Linked DNA regions of Homo sapiens: regions 2 and 3 are each linked to region 1. The links come from fine-mapping of genetic effects on gene expression. A gene starts in region 1. Each other region holds a variant in brackets. All regions are shown on one strand. Distances are between the middles of the regions.

Evidence for each region. PIP is the estimated chance that this variant, and not a neighbour inherited with it, causes the effect. A credible set is the group of variants that fine-mapping cannot tell apart.
Region 2: its variant is the best candidate, but not a certain one, in a credible set for the expression of THBS1 in whole blood (INTERVAL, PIP 0.82).
Region 3: its variant is the best candidate, but not a certain one, in a credible set for the expression of THBS1 in blood mononuclear cells (TOPMed, PIP 0.75).

What each region holds. Positions count from the first base shown.
Region 1 is chr15:39,578,339-39,583,566 of GRCh38, forward strand. It overlaps THBS1 (thrombospondin 1), which reads left to right and starts at 2,741. Exons shown (of 22, transcript NM_003246.4): 1 at 2,741-2,890; 2 at 3,491-3,586; 3 at 3,855-4,414. The coding sequence starts at 3,520. LOC124903470 reads left to right here and starts at 1,469. Exons shown (of 1, transcript XM_047433405.1): 1 at 1,469-2,656. The coding sequence starts at 1,980. The coding sequence ends at 2,414. RefSeq lists an enhancer at 1,832-2,569 and silencers at 1,992-2,221, 2,232-2,281.
Region 2 is chr15:39,324,758-39,329,985 of GRCh38, forward strand. The region is part of intron 1 of LOC105370777 (a long non-coding RNA gene); the gene reads right to left. Among named protein-coding and RNA genes, the nearest start is that of LINC02915, 77 kb to the left of the region's middle. The variant C/A (reference allele first, on the strand shown) is at 2,498.
Region 3 is chr15:39,310,346-39,315,573 of GRCh38, forward strand. All of the region lies in intron 1 of LOC105370777 (a long non-coding RNA gene), which reads right to left. Among named protein-coding and RNA genes, the nearest start is that of LINC02915, 62 kb to the left of the region's middle. The variant C/T (reference allele first, on the strand shown) is at 2,289.

The DNA of each region.
Region 1 (5,228 bases):
TAAATAAACAAAATATTTTTTCTCAATTATGTTGCTCTCCTTAATTACACGCAATTTTAAAACTAGCTGTAACTGACAGCCCTTTCCTCACACTTACTGCCAATGTATTTAGGTCAATCCCACCTCCAATTAGAGAAACTTAGAAAAAGGAAATCCTACGGTGAAATGCCATATGCCTTACAATTTTCAGTAACTAATCCTCAAGGATGACAACTTGGCAAAAAAGAGAACTGGACCAGCTCCCTGAAAGGTCCATCACTTCGGCCCATGTTAATTGATTGCCTTAAAATCACAGTGCTTCCAGGTTGTAGAGACACACTCAAAATGGACTATTGCCCTCACATTAAAGGGGATAGGTTTTCTTTTCCCTTTTCCCATCCCTGCTTCTCTCAAAGCTGCACAGAGGTATATGAGGTTTGGGGAATATTTGCAGCACATGTTGGCTGGCAAGAATGTGGGTGAATTCCTGTTAAGGGGCGCAGACACTCCCTCTTCTATGACCTTTCCTTTCCACCCAGAACAACTGAAGTATCATGATAAGAGGAAGGGCTTTGTGTTTGAGATAAGCAGCTCCTATACCTGTCAGCTTTCTCTAATAAGAAAGCTCTTTCCTGCCACCGTATAGGTCACCTTCTTATTGGTAAAGCATGATGAAGTTTGGAAACTGTTGTCCTTGTTTTGTTGAAAGAAGCCAAGTTCCAAGAAATCTGCAGAGGCATTCCTACAATCCCTCAGCCATGGCAGCATGAATCCTGAAGGGGCAGTGAGTGCTGGTTTCTACTCTGTCTGCACAGCTAAGCCTAGGGGAGATAATCTTTTCATACAAGATGCATTCTGCTTTTGTGGGCCTCTTGCAGCCCTCAAGCCCCCATCTGATTTGTACACAATGATCCAGTGGGCCAGAGGAGCCCAGAGCCATGAGCGGCCCATCCCTCCAAGAACTATTTCTGACTGTCCAGTATCATGGAGCAAGTGGAAAGAAGAAAAAAAAAACCCAATTACTTTTCGAAGAGCAAGATGAATGCTGTAGAAGGAGAAGGAAGGGGAGGGAGATGGATGGGTGCCGATTCCAGAATCTTCAGATCTGCTTGGATGAATCATTACCTATGATTTGCGGGACAAGAATCTGATTTTATTCATCAACCAGTAGAAACTTTTCTTTCTGCCTCCCAACATCTGAAATCCAACAAACATGTGCCTTAGGAACATACCGGTCATCTTTTAGAGGCATTTTATATACATATTGAGTAACTAGAAAACACTCTTTCCGTAATACACACACACACACACACACACACACACCATCTTGTCATACAACACTCCCACGCAAGAAAAGCGAAACTGCTGTTTGATGAATGTAAACACTTGGCTGTTTGCAGCAGTCGGGAGTCCTGCCAGGTTTAAGTGCTAAGATGGGAGGTGAACCCCAGGGGTTTCCCCCTGCCCGTGCTGAGATCCTTATTTGGTCAAGCTTCTACCTATGCCCTGGCCTCGGAGCGAGCCCGATAGCGCTGGATCACAGCAGAGGGAGCGAGGCGGCTGACGTCCCATCCCGAAGAGATGAATGGAATTCCAGGAAGCTAGAGTCATGCTGGCTTGGGACAGTGGCTTGGAGACCAGACTTCAATGACAGAAGCACTAGGCAGCGGCACTCATGGCAATGTGTGCACCCACAGAAATGTAACCCACACCTCGGGTTCAGGAGCCGAAAAATGAAAAGAACGTTTAGGGAGGAAAAAGGGAAATACAATAATAGGCAGAGAGTAATTTATTACTCTATGGGTCTGCTCTGTAAATAGCTGAAGACTCTGGAGCCAGATGGTTCTGCAAATTCTCCAAACAGGAGTCACGTTAAGAAGCACGAGTGGGCACAAAAACTGTTTTTCAAGACACAATTTCAATTTGGCTTGTGGAAACTGGATACGAGTAAGTTTCCTTAAAATTCGAGTAGAAAGCAGCTGTCCTCCCCGGGCCCCTTGATGAGAATACGCACACCGCCCCCAAGCGGCCGGCCGAGGGAGCGCCGCGGCAGCGGGAGAGGCGTCTCTGTGGGCCCCCTGGCAGCCGCGGCAGGAAAGGGCCCGAAGGCAGCGAAGGCGAACGCGGCGCACCAACCTGCCGGCCCCGCCGACGCCGCGCTCACCTCCCTCCGGGGCGGGCGTGGGGCCAGCTCAGGACAGGCGCTCGGGGGACGCGTGTCCTCACCCCACGGGGACGGTGGAGGAGAGTCAGCGAGGGCCCGAGGGGCAGGTACTTTAACGAATGGCTCTCTTGGTGTCCCCTGCGCCCCGTCGGCCCATTTTTCTTTTTACAAAACGGGCCCAGTCTCTAGTATCCACCTCTCGCCATCAACCAGGCATTCCGGGAGATCAGCTCGCCCGAAAGCCCCTGCGCCACCCCGCGGGCCCTCCTAGGTGGTCTCCCCAGCCCCGTCCCTTTTCGGGATGCTTGCTGATCACCCCGAGCCCGCGTGGCGCAAGAGTACGAGCGCCGAGCCCGTGCGCGCCAAGGCTGCGTGGGCGGGCACCGACTTTTCTGAGAAGTTCTAGTGCTCCCAAGCCCCGACCCCCGCCCCCTTCACTTTCTAGCTGGAAAGTTGCGCGCCAGGCAGCGGGGGGCGGAGAGAGGAGCCCAGACTGGCCCCCACCTCCCGCTTCCTGCCCGGCCGCCGCCCATTGGCCGGAGGAATCCCCAGGAATGCGAGCGCCCCTTTAAAAGCGCGCGGCTCCTCCGCCTTGCCAGCCGCTGCGCCCGAGCTGGCCTGCGAGTTCAGGGCTCCTGTCGCTCTCCAGGAGCAACCTCTACTCCGGACGCACAGGCATTCCCCGCGCCCCTCCAGCCCTCGCCGCCCTCGCCACCGCTCCCGGCCGCCGCGCTCCGGTACACACAGGTAAGTCGCCCCCGGCGGCCGCCGAGGACCAAAGCTGCCCGGGACATCCACCTGGAGCGCTGAGGCTTCAGTCCCTCTGGTGGACCCCGGAACCTACACTCTCCCCGCTCGCCTACCCCAGCCCGCTCCTCTCAGCCGCTGGAGGACTCTTCAGGGCAAGGCTCCAGAGCCATCCTCTCCAGCCTTGAGGTTCACAAACCAACTCATCAGGACACCCCAAGATTTCCTTACTCTCTGAAGTCCTCCTTAAGCCTTTGTATCAGCACTCCAGGGAAGAGTCTGTACTTCCCCTGCCCTCCCTGCAACCCCAAACTACAGTTCCTGATCTTGCTCACCTTCGACTTCCCAAAAGCCCCCAAATTGTTGGTCTTGCGCCCCCCACACTTTAAAACCAGCATCTCTTTCCTCCACCTCTCTCTCTCTCTCTCTCTCTCTCTCTCATGCTCTCTGGAAAGTAATCCTGTTGTCCTTCATTTCAGCAAACGCGGGGTCAAAGAGGGATGGTCCCGGCCCTGTCCCCATGCCCAGCCCCGTTTCTGCGCACCGTCCCTCCCTGCCTAGCTGATCTCTGACCCTCGGCTCTTGTGCTTCCTGCTACAGGATCCCTGCTGGGCACCAACAGCTCCACCATGGGGCTGGCCTGGGGACTAGGCGTCCTGTTCCTGATGCATGTGTGTGGCACCAACCGCATTCCAGGTGAGTTTGTGTGGCACCTTTAGGGGAAGGAGGGACAAGGAAGAGGTGCTGGCTATCCCAGGTGTGCCCCCTCACGTGCTGTCCTCTCCCTCTTGAGCCTGACTGGACATCAGGACGCAGCTTCACTCTGATCCTGGTATTTATTCACCTCTTTCAGTGGTTGCCAGGAGTTTTCACCCCAACCCTTTGTCTCCACCCCTAAGGACTCAGCCCCCTACTGCTGGTCCCAGCCTAGAAAGCTCACTTTGTGTTCTCTCCTGTCTAACAGAGTCTGGCGGAGACAACAGCGTGTTTGACATCTTTGAACTCACCGGGGCCGCCCGCAAGGGGTCTGGGCGCCGACTGGTGAAGGGCCCCGACCCTTCCAGCCCAGCTTTCCGCATCGAGGATGCCAACCTGATCCCCCCTGTGCCTGATGACAAGTTCCAAGACCTGGTGGATGCTGTGCGGGCAGAAAAGGGTTTCCTCCTTCTGGCATCCCTGAGGCAGATGAAGAAGACCCGGGGCACGCTGCTGGCCCTGGAGCGGAAAGACCACTCTGGCCAGGTCTTCAGCGTGGTGTCCAATGGCAAGGCGGGCACCCTGGACCTCAGCCTGACCGTCCAAGGAAAGCAGCACGTGGTGTCTGTGGAAGAAGCTCTCCTGGCAACCGGCCAGTGGAAGAGCATCACCCTGTTTGTGCAGGAAGACAGGGCCCAGCTGTACATCGACTGTGAAAAGATGGAGAATGCTGAGTTGGACGTCCCCATCCAAAGCGTCTTCACCAGAGACCTGGCCAGCATCGCCAGACTCCGCATCGCAAAGGGGGGCGTCAATGACAATTTCCAGGTGAGGCTTCTTCTCTGAGCCCTGCTCCGTGGGATCATCTGCTAGACAGGTGACCTGCCAGGAGGGCTACAGGAAATCCTGTCTGTAAACTAACGCAGCAGTTCTCAGATTTTAGGCAGCATGAGCATCACCTGGAGGGCTTGTGAAAGCTCACCCTGCTGCACCCCAGCCCCAGAGTCTGGGATTCTGTAAAACTGCAACTCTAACAAGTACCAGGTGATGCTGATGCCGGTGGTCTGGGAAGCACACTTTGAAAACTACTCAAGGAAACAAGAAATGGTTTTCCTTTAGCAGTCAGCCTGTTCAAGCCTTAGATACTCCTTAGGCTCTTAAGAAAAGAGCTTATTTCAAATGCATTCCCCCAATTTTAATCTTGTTTGAAATGGATACTTTCTATGGGCAGAATCAGTACCACTTTGCTATTGGATTCCTCATGGGGATGCAGCTGGTCTCACATAAAAGGTTAAAATAGCAGTTAGTTGTTGCTGTTACAGCTTCATCTGTGCCTTAACTTCTAGATCTTTGCAACGGTGGCTTTGAACTCCCACATTTAACTCTTTGACACTGGAAAGTGTCATTATATCCTCTAGGCTTAGGATCAGATTCCATTTCCTGTGTACCCAAGTAGGCTGATAACTGAATTCTTTGTAAAATACTCAAGACTTGGCAGAAGTCACAATTAAGATTTTGAAGTTGTTTGGCGATTAATGTTGCTGTGTTATTTTGACATAGTGATCTTAAGACAGCTCTTTGAAGCTTTTAGAACATCTATTGTATGCTTTTCCTAGCATACAGACAGTCTCCCCCAACCCCA
Region 2 (5,228 bases), 250 kb before region 1:
TGTCCTTCCAGGAGAACGGCTTGGAAAACTACAGAGAGTAAATGCCTTCAGCTGAATTATCAGCCAACACAATCTGAATTTCACATCTGGAATACCTTTTTCAGACCCACCTTTCTTACATACCACAAGGAATAATAACTATGTCTGAGTTGTGCAAAGAGAGTAATAATGTGTGAATTTTTTTTAAAATTTCATAAGCAGAAGGATTTATTAATGGATGAATGTATTTTCAGTCTTCCCCTCCTTCCCAAGGGTTCTTTTTTTCCACTGGCGCTTTCTTTACTACACTTAATTCTACCTATCATAAGTTAATTGGCCCCAATCCATGGACAATAATACAAAAAATGTTTTTTATATTACATTTTTATAATGGGAAAAAAATGCTTTTTAAAAAACTTTTTTTTGTTTTGTTTTGTTTTGTTGAGACAGAGTCTTGCTCTTGTCCCCCAGGCTGGAGTGCAGTGGTGCAATCTCGGCTCAATGCAACCTTGGCCTCCCGGGTTCAAGTAATTCTCCTGCCTCAGCCTCCCAAATAGCCGGGATTACAGACACCCACCACCATGCCCAGCTAATTTTTTTTTTTTTTTTGTATTTTTAGTACAGATGAGGTTTCACCATGTTGGCCAGGCTGGTCTCGAACTCCTGACCTCAGGTCATCTACCTGCCATGGCCTCCCTAAATTGCTGGGATTACAGGCGTGAGCCACCACGCCCGGCCCATAAGTAATTTTTAAAAGCATGTATAGTCTTGGTTTTCTCTTTGACATTTCCATGCCTCTCCCGTTCCCCTTTGCATCTCATTGGTGCCATTCTTAAGCTCCATCAAAGGCTGCCATCCTATGTCCTATGTACCTCGTTCCCCAACAGAGGGGCAAACCTCTCTTTTCCTGGACTCCACACTGAATTTCTTCTGTAAGCTTCAAGAAAGAATTAGATCAAATTCAGTTAAAAATATTGCCATCTCCTTTGAAGCTCTTTTGGAAAAAAAAAAAATTTATTTAAAAACTTACAATCACTACCCAGAAATTATACTTTTTGAACTCTTCTCAAGGTCTGCCTGTACCTTGATGGATTTCTCTCAAATGGTGTCGTATCATGCTCTCTTCTCACGTGCCACATTATTTAGAAAGAACTCAAGTGTTTCAGGAGAAGAGAAGTGCTCACAAGAGAATGAGATTGAGGAAAGCACAGCTATATTTTTACCATCGTCACCCAAACCCCCAAATTGATGAGCTAATCTCTCTGTCAGACTTAGCTCATCCATTACTGCTACATGTTGGGTGTTTTTATCTCCAGCCCCAGGACACTGGGTTGTAATGGAAGTACCTCTGCCAAGAGATACTGATAGACAGAAAAGAGGTAGGACCAGGCAAGCAAAGCCCCTATCTGATGAGGCAAAGTACATTTTTGGCTCTAATGTTATTGTATGTAAAGTAGGTCAAGAAAGTTATGTGAATTTTAAGACAGAAAAGGAGATGTGTTTACACTGGTTTATGACATGGCTACCAGATGCAACTTGTTCCTGTGGAAGGGAAAGGAAGAAGAACCATGTCTCAGTTTAAATATTTGACTGGTTCCTCCAAAAGCTGTTAAGATGACAAAGAACTAGGAAAGCGCAGAGGGAAAAGACAAAGAGAATTCTAGAAACTTACTCCAGACTTGGAAAGAAGTGTCTAATAAAGGGGGAAGAAAAGCATCTCAGCTTGCAACAGCGATTCATTCCTTCTCACAGGCTCTCTCTCCTCACTTCCCCATCATCAGGCATTGTGTACGTTTTTCCTATGCCCCATCTGAGAGTCTCCTTATGATCAAGTCACTGGATTTGACAATATCGTTACCTGGACAACTGAGGTATGGAAAACAGAGCTGCAGTTCAGATAAAGCTTCAACAGAAGTTCTCATTGTTCTCCCAGTTAATGTCCACCACCGTACACACAGTAGTTCAGATTACATACAGATTTCCATTCTAAATGAGCTCCTAATTAAAAATAAAGCCCTCCCTCCATCTGCTCATAACTCTCACAAACCTTTTTTTCCCTTTGAGCTCAACCTCTCAAGCTTTGTCTGTGCCCAAATGCAGATTACACTGTAAAGTCTGCAGTGCTTTGGCATGAGGTAAGAGTGACAGAATGTATTTTTTTAACTTGATTCTTTTAAAAAAATACAGTCTTTGAAAATAAATAAGGTGAAAATAACTTTACATGCTACCTGCATACTTTGCATGTTACGAGTTCAGAAGAACAGCTCTTTGTCCAAAAACTCCGTCAAACAGGAAGGCTCAAAGCTGATTTTGACGCACATGTTATCTATTAAATTTGTAATTGCAAAATGTCCAACGTGACTCGAAAGTGTGAAAAGGTCATTGCCCAACCATGTGGTGCTGCAGCTTGTATCTGATGGGGAGAGAGGGGTATATGTGAAAATTATGAAGCAACTCAAAACGGTTTAGGCAGAAGCAGCTTTTGTCCCATACATAGAGAGAAGAGCTTTGTACATAC[C/A]CCCTTGAAATTGCAGAAATTTGACTTTGCTCAATACCACAGTGACAAAACTTGGACATAGGGATTTCCCCTTTTCATCTGTGCAGTTGGTTAACTTTCTATGCATTTTGTTTAAAATCAAATATTAAAAATTCCCTTTAAAATATGGTAAGATCTTCTACTTCCATCCTCTGCTCCCCTCCAGAACCCACCCCTTCGTCCAAAAGGACAAGTCAAGACCAACATTCACAGGAAAGGTAACTTCCCTTGTGAACACATAACATGATGCCCATAAGCACAGAGCAACTCTGGCTGCTGGAAACATTTCCACAGCATTGCAAAGACCTGCTTCTCTTTTCATACTTCTCTCCCAAAGTTCAACTATATCTTCTTTTCAAGTGCTCCTCCTTGGAAAATCCTACATGTTTTGAGGATCTGGCAAGCTACCTTTTTATGCATTTATTTCACCTATTATTCTTAGGGTAAACTATAAGAGTAGTTCCTCCTAGGAAAGGGACTGCATACGGTCCCCTTAACTCAGTCCCTCAGACTCTCAGGGTCCAGGGCTGTACTCAGCATTTGAGTTAGTCTTAGAACTAAAGCAAGCCTGTGTGATAGCTCAGATGGCACCAGTCCCAGGCATCCTCACCTGTGCTGTCTTGGGAAGGCCTTTCTGGAGGCCGGACTGCACTCCGGCTTCCTGGGAGCATGACTCTTGACTTAGGACAAGCAGTGACAAGTGACACAGGGCTTGTGCATTCCTCCAATAGGGCTACAGTGCCAGTTGGTTGAGGTCAACCTAATCTTGGCCCACAAGACTTTGAAAGTGAGAAGAGTAGAGAAGATATAGCCTTCTTTTCTGAGGACCCAGAATCCCTATTCCTTGTATTCGTTCATTCTCCAGCATTGCTTATCAAAAATAGAGTCACTCCATCTTCAAAAGAATAACTTGCAAGCACAAAGCAACTTTTGAAAAATAAATTGCCCTCCTCCAATTGAATTCTTAGATTGATGTTATTTTCTTGGAGAAGAAGTTGGCAAAGTTTTTATTCCATGAAACCTCAACTCATCCAAACCTCACTCAAGGATAGTATGAGTGTTTCTTCCATCACCTAAACCTGCCCATCCAGACAGGTTCTATGCCAGGCACAGTGAATGCCACCGTGACGGTTAATGTGACAACCAGGACTTCTTGGGATATGCCTACTTGTGAAAGACAGTGAAAAGACATATAGCACAGAATCATAGATTTATAAAACCAGAAACAAACAGCAATGGCCACCCAGAAGAGTCCTTTTCAGTCATTCCATCACGGCGCTGAGTTTTGAAAGGTCTGTGTGGAAAAGAGTTTGTCGTTGACTGGGCTGGGATAAACCTGTGTGTGTGTGGGAAGCTGTTCTACAGAAACATTTTAAAAATGGAGTTTATATTTACCTGCATCATATTTTAATTCAAATAAAAGAAATATAAGCACCAACTATCAAAAATAATCTCTGGGTTTGCTTATCCACCTGCCCTGTTGTTCCCAAGCTCCCGAAAGCCCTTTCAGCTTTACTCAACCTGTGCCTCAGTCTGGCTATGACCACCCAGTAACACACTGTACCCTTTGCTGACTGTGAGCTTCGCTATACCCAGTATCGTATTCCAAGACCCTATTCTCCAAACGAAATATATCCCATTCTAAAAAAAACCAGTTCAAGTTTGCTTCTTGCAGGATGACTTTCTTAACTTCATAAGGTACAGATCAAATGACAGTTACATGTCTCTCCTGCCATTTGATTTCCAAAACAGGTTTCCCATGAATCCCCAGCAAAGCATATGGCCCATTCAGAACTTATTTCACATGTAAACTGTATTAATATGCAACTCATTCTAGTCGAGATTAATAGGTTAGAAGCAAAGGCACAAAATCTTGCTTTTCTTTCCTTAGCATCTGTGGATGTAAATATGGTTACTGTGGATGGAAGATGGGATGAAAAAAAGGCAACAGACTGAAACTCTGTGCTTGCTGATCTGTGTCCTGGGATTAACTAGATATTTGGCCTTGGATAGTCACTTCCTCTCTGTGAGCTTCCATTTCTTCATTTGTTATGCTATGAAGACTGAGGTATATGATGGATGTATAATGGCTAAGTCCGTAACAAAGTTCTATGAAGAAATTATTTCATTCATTTATTCCAGAAGCATTTTCTGAACACCTATGGTGTGTTTGCTTCTATGCTTGGTTCTTGGAACACAGCTTTGAAAAGACAATTAGAAAACTCTCTCTCTGATTTTATGTGGCTTACAGTCTAGCAGACATCTAATAGTCCATTAACATACCCTGTATTAGTCCATTTTGTGTTGCTACAACAGAATATCTGAGGCTGAGTAATTTATTTAAAAAAAAAAGGTTTGTTTGGCTCACAGTTCTGCTGGCTAAAATGTCTAAGATTGGACAGCTGTATCTAGTGAGGGTCTCATGCTGCTTCTTGTTATCTGAGACAGGGTCTCGCTTTGTCACCAAGACTGGAATGCAGTGGTACATTCACGAAGCACTGCAACTTCCGCCTCCCAGCCTCAGACGATCCTACCACCTCAGCCTCCCAAGTAGCTGGGACTACAGGCACAGACCACCATGCCCAGCTAATTTTGTTTTGGCTTTTAACATCGCAGTGATTATCTGCATCAAGCTACTGAGTAAGGAACTACAGGGCTGGGAAGCCTGCATGTAGGAGGGAGTTGATGTTAGTCCAGGCAAACTCCACCGGTA
Region 3 (5,228 bases), 270 kb before region 1:
GTCTTCCTAGAAGAACTCAGCTCTACAAGTTTTAAAACATTGCTGGGAAGAATGATCTCCATTTTAAATTCTGGATACACGGAGCTCAAGATGGCAACAAATCCAACACTAAAGAAACCGATACTCCTTAGGCACTTACTTTATGCCTAACATTGCTATGTGTGATTCACATGTTATCTCCATTAATCCCCATAATTACAGGGACACACTAGTATGACCCCCACTTTATAGGTGAAGAAATTGAGGCTCAGAAAATGGTTAAGCCACTTACTCAAGGTTGCCCAGCAAGTGATGGAGTCAAGATGAAAATAGGCAACCCGATTCCATAGCCCACATGCTCCATGGCCCTGGTGCTCCATGCTCTGTGCACAGACTGGCTGAGGCAGAGCTGCAACAGGATCCCTGACAGCTAAAGTTGCCATTACAATGATGATTCGTATCCTTCATTTAAATATAGATGAACACCACAAAATGACAAATGTATCTTTATGTTAAAGGTGTGTCCATTATGATGCAATAATTGGCCCTTTTAGCATTTTCATTGCCACGAATCACACATTATGTAACTATTACTAAGCTAATCCCACTAAAGCCTATTAATGTCAGAAAGACTTGGGTGTTTCACTACTAAACTGTCTCTGAGGATGTTTTAACACTTGTTCTTAGGCTGCATTTAATATCTGCAATTATGGGGAAAGGATGCCATGAAAACTATCCTTAAATCCTTTTTTATTTATTTTGTTTTGAGATGGAGTCTCGCCCTGTTGCCCAGGCCGGAGTGCAATGTCACAATCTCGGCTCACTACAACCACCTCCACCTCCCAGGTTCAAATGATTCTCCTGCCTCAACCTCCCAAGTAGCTGGGATTACAGGCGCCCGCCACCACACCCAGCTAATTTTTGTATTTTGAGTAGAGACGGGGTTTTACCATGTTGGCCAGGCTGGGCTCGATCTCCTGACCTCATGACCCACCCACCTCGGCCTCCCAAAGTGCTGGGATTACAGGTGTGAACCATAGTGCCGGCCAAATCCATTTTTAACACAACCAAACAAAACATCAACTTGATTGAGAGCTCCAGGACATTGATTGAGAGCTGTTGCCATATGTTTTTAGGCTCCAGTATATCAAGGCTAAAGTGCTCACCATTGCTAGAGGACAAAAACACACAGCAGCTGCTCAGCAATGCCTAAGCCTGTGGCCCAAGTCGAAAAGAATTAGACCAAGTATTACAGTAATCAGGCCTCAAGCAAGCAAAAGCCTGGCTCAATACTAAGAACCCCCTACTAATGGGGAGAGCACACCTCCATACTCCGGTGCCTGGGGAAACATTTCCCAGGAGTGTGGTGGTGTTCTGCCTGCTGGGAGATAGATACCATTAACCTCTCTTCTTACTATGTTTGAACTCCACTTGCACTCTTATCTCTGAATTTTGTCTTGTTTCCACTAAGTATTGCTTGCCCCTTCTTCTTCATACTCAAAAATATGGATGTAATATACCTGCCTCTAAGGCCCCTTTGAAAGTTCATCTTCACCCCCAAGTTAAACAGAAAACCCTCATGCATGTGTGCAGTCTGATTTCATCTTATGTGGCGCTCCTCCTACTGACAAAATATGTTCTCACTCTGAGAAGTTTCCCTGTGCCGCTTTAGTAATAAACAAATCCACCTGTGTTTGCATCCTAGGCGTTCTCAGTGTACCACACTTGAGCTCTGCCTCCCCGGTTAGGCATCTGCTCTGGAAGCACGAGGAATATTGCTTTCAGTCCTCTTATATTCCTGATACCCTTGACTTTGCAAGGCCTAGCAATACGCGGCACTTACTATAAATTAAATAAATAAAAATCCATTTAAGTCAATCAAACCAACAGCTCTCTGTTTCTCCTGTGAAATGGAGAGGCAGATGAGTAGCCCAGCATTCTGCATGGTTCCCCTGATGCACTCTCCCTGCCCACTGAAGCAGCCCTGCAGTTCCACCCAGTCATTCCCTGCTTCTCTGCACCATAGTGACGGGTCCACCTAGAAGGAAACTCCCTTTAAAAGTTGCTCCATTAAACTGATAAGAACAGATACTACACTTGATTTTAGCCAAGAGGATATGGAGAAATAGGAATGCTTTTACACTGTTGGTGGGAGTGTAAATTAGTTTAACCATTGTGGAAGACAGTGTGGCGATTCTTCAAGGATCTAGAACCAGAAATACTATTTGACTCAGCAATCCCATTACTGGATATATACCCAAAGGATTACAAATCATTCTACTATAAAGACACATGCACATGTATGTTTA[C/T]TGCGGCACTATTCACAATAGCAAAGACTTGGAACCAACCCAAATGCCCATCGATGATAGACTGGATAAAGAAAATATGGCACATATATATCATGGAATACTAAGCAGCCATAAAAAAAGGATGAGTTCATGTCCTTTGCAGGGACATGGATGAAGCTGGAACCATCATCCTCAGCAAACTAACAGAACAGAAAACCAGAAACTGCATGTTCTCACTCATAAGTAGGAGTTGAACAATGAGAACATATGGACACAGGGAGGGGAACATCACACACCAGGGTGAGGGGCTAGCGGAGGGACAGCATTAGGAGAAATACCTAATGTAGATGATGGGTTGATGGGTGCAGCAAACCTCCATGGCTCGTGTATACCTATGTAACAAACCTGCATGTTCTGCACATGCACCCCAGAACTTAAAGTATAAAATAAAATAATTATAAATTTTTTTAAAAAGTTGCTTCATTCTGGGGACAAGAGACCACCAAGCTGTTGCATGTTAGAACAGACCTACTGGGAGGCAGTAGAGGGCACTGTGGACTCATGCCCATGACACCCCCAATAAGCACACCTATGGCAAAGAGGAAGTGCCTAAGTCCACAGGTCTCGAGTTTGTAGTGCGCATACCTCCTGCCCAAGTCTATTGCTGCTGTTGCTTAGCCCTTTCAATATTCTTTTCTTACATTTTGTTTTTCTTAACTGTATCAAAGCTTGTGAAAAATTCATATCAGTTATTTCAATTTTTCTGAAAGATTCAGTAAATCAGATATTGTTTTAAAACAATCATCACCAAAGCCACGTGGCTTAGTGAGGATTGTTTTAAAACAGTCAATGAGGAAGTTAGGAAATAATTCTTCATCTCCAGACTTAATTGACTAAGTCCCAAAGATTATTACCCTATATTATCTCTTAAATCACACCCCCTCTTACTTAGGACAGGAACATACCCCTGAACAACAGTGCTCAGCTGAGGGGGTGAACAAGGCTAAAACCCAGCCAATCACTGCTGGCAAGGCCTTGAGCCCTGGCTCCAGGCTGCACCTGCCTTAGGAAGGGGCGTCTCTCTACGACACTGAATGGCCTCCTGTGGATCACCACAGACCTGCTTTAACCACCTTAACTGCAACCACCTTGTTCTTGGCCCTTATTTATACGTTGACCACTATGACCATCTCCTAACACTCCTAGAGGTAACTTAAACTGCATACACACACATATATTCATAACTGAACAAGCTTTATGCATATTTACAAATTAAATGTGCCATCACTGAAATTCAAATTAAAAGCATTAATCAAATGTGACCAACATACTGTTTGACTAAAATTGAACCTCTTCTGCTCCAGGGAGGATAAGGAGCTGACAGCTATGTTACAAGATCTATCTAGTTTTGTACTATATAGACCATGTGTTATGCAATGACTCAATATCCAATCAATGTTTTCTCTGATAAAGTCCTTCCAAACTGTCTGTTGGCATCATTTGGCCATTATGAAGTTTATGTTTGTTTTAGTCTCATTATGTGGAAACAGTTAAAGCAGTCCTACTGGAACCCAAATAATCTTATGTTCAAATGTCTACTTGGACTTAAATCTCATTTTAGTACACAGGCAATAAAATAATGATCCCGATAATCCAGATCCAGATAATCCAGAAGGTGCTTATTGTAGTTAAACATAAACAAAAGTAAGCTAATTGCTAAATTTAGAGCCCAAAAGGGCCAGACCACCATCATACCTGAATTTATAGATCAAAAGAAACCAAGTTGAAATCCAACTCTTTCCTTACAGGTTTTAATATTAGATGGCTACAGGAGGACTCAGGCTTAGAAAACACCACTTCTCATGCTTATGGTATTAAGCCCTCCTTTCAGTAAATAAGGAAGGGGATATATCCTCCATGAGAAACTTAAATAAATATAGCTGTTCTTCCACTGACCTATATTTCCTATCAGAGAACACCAAATACTATGTAAATAGAAAATAACTCTACTGTTGAGATAATCTATAAGAGGGTCAGCAAACCATAGCTTTAGGGCCAAATCCAGTTCTTGCCTTGTTTTTGTACTTCCTGAAAGCTAAGAATTTTTACATTATTAAAGGATTATTAAAAATGAATTTATAATGGAGACAGTATGATAGGTCACAAAGTCTAAAATTTTCTACCCTGTCTATGTAAAGTTTTCCAACCACTGAACTAGATAATACCCTAATAAAGAATATTACCAATGAAAACTACATAGAGCTATTCATCATTTCTATGTAAATTCACTGTCAAAAAATGATCATCAGAAATAAGATGGACATATTTTACCATCCATGAACTTTTATTTCTTGGACTTCTATGTAATAAGGGTTCATCAGTGAATGTCCATGTAGAACATTTTTTGTCCAGTCAAGTCTAATGTGTTTAAACTGGCCAGTATTTGATAAGACTAACATCTTTATCACAGCCTCCATCCTGAACTGCTTGCCTTCATCCAACTCAAGCCCCATTACCTAACGTTTTCCTGAATGTTAGTCCTCCTGAGAGCTCAATTTGCCCTCTTTGGGCAGCATTGCCTTGATCACAAATCTGCTGCTCAAGACCCCTTTTCTGGCTCTGATCTCAATTTCCATTTGCAATCACTCATTTGATTATGCTCTTCAGAACAAACCAGGATTGTCTCACTAAGTCTAGCCCGTTCTTACAAGACAGTTCTTACTGTACTTACTGTACAATGCAGCTGATGAATGCCCATACTGGGATGAAGCCAGGCATACTGTCACCCAGTGACTTGGAAATTTAATACTCAACTGATGATGCCAGGATAGGAAGCCAGCCAAACTGGCTCAGTCAAAACAAAAATCTTCTTTCCTTTCTTTTGATTTTTGCTCCAAAATGGCTAATTCATTTGATGGGGAACTTGAGTTTTCTTTATAGAGTGAAATTGAGAAAGATAAT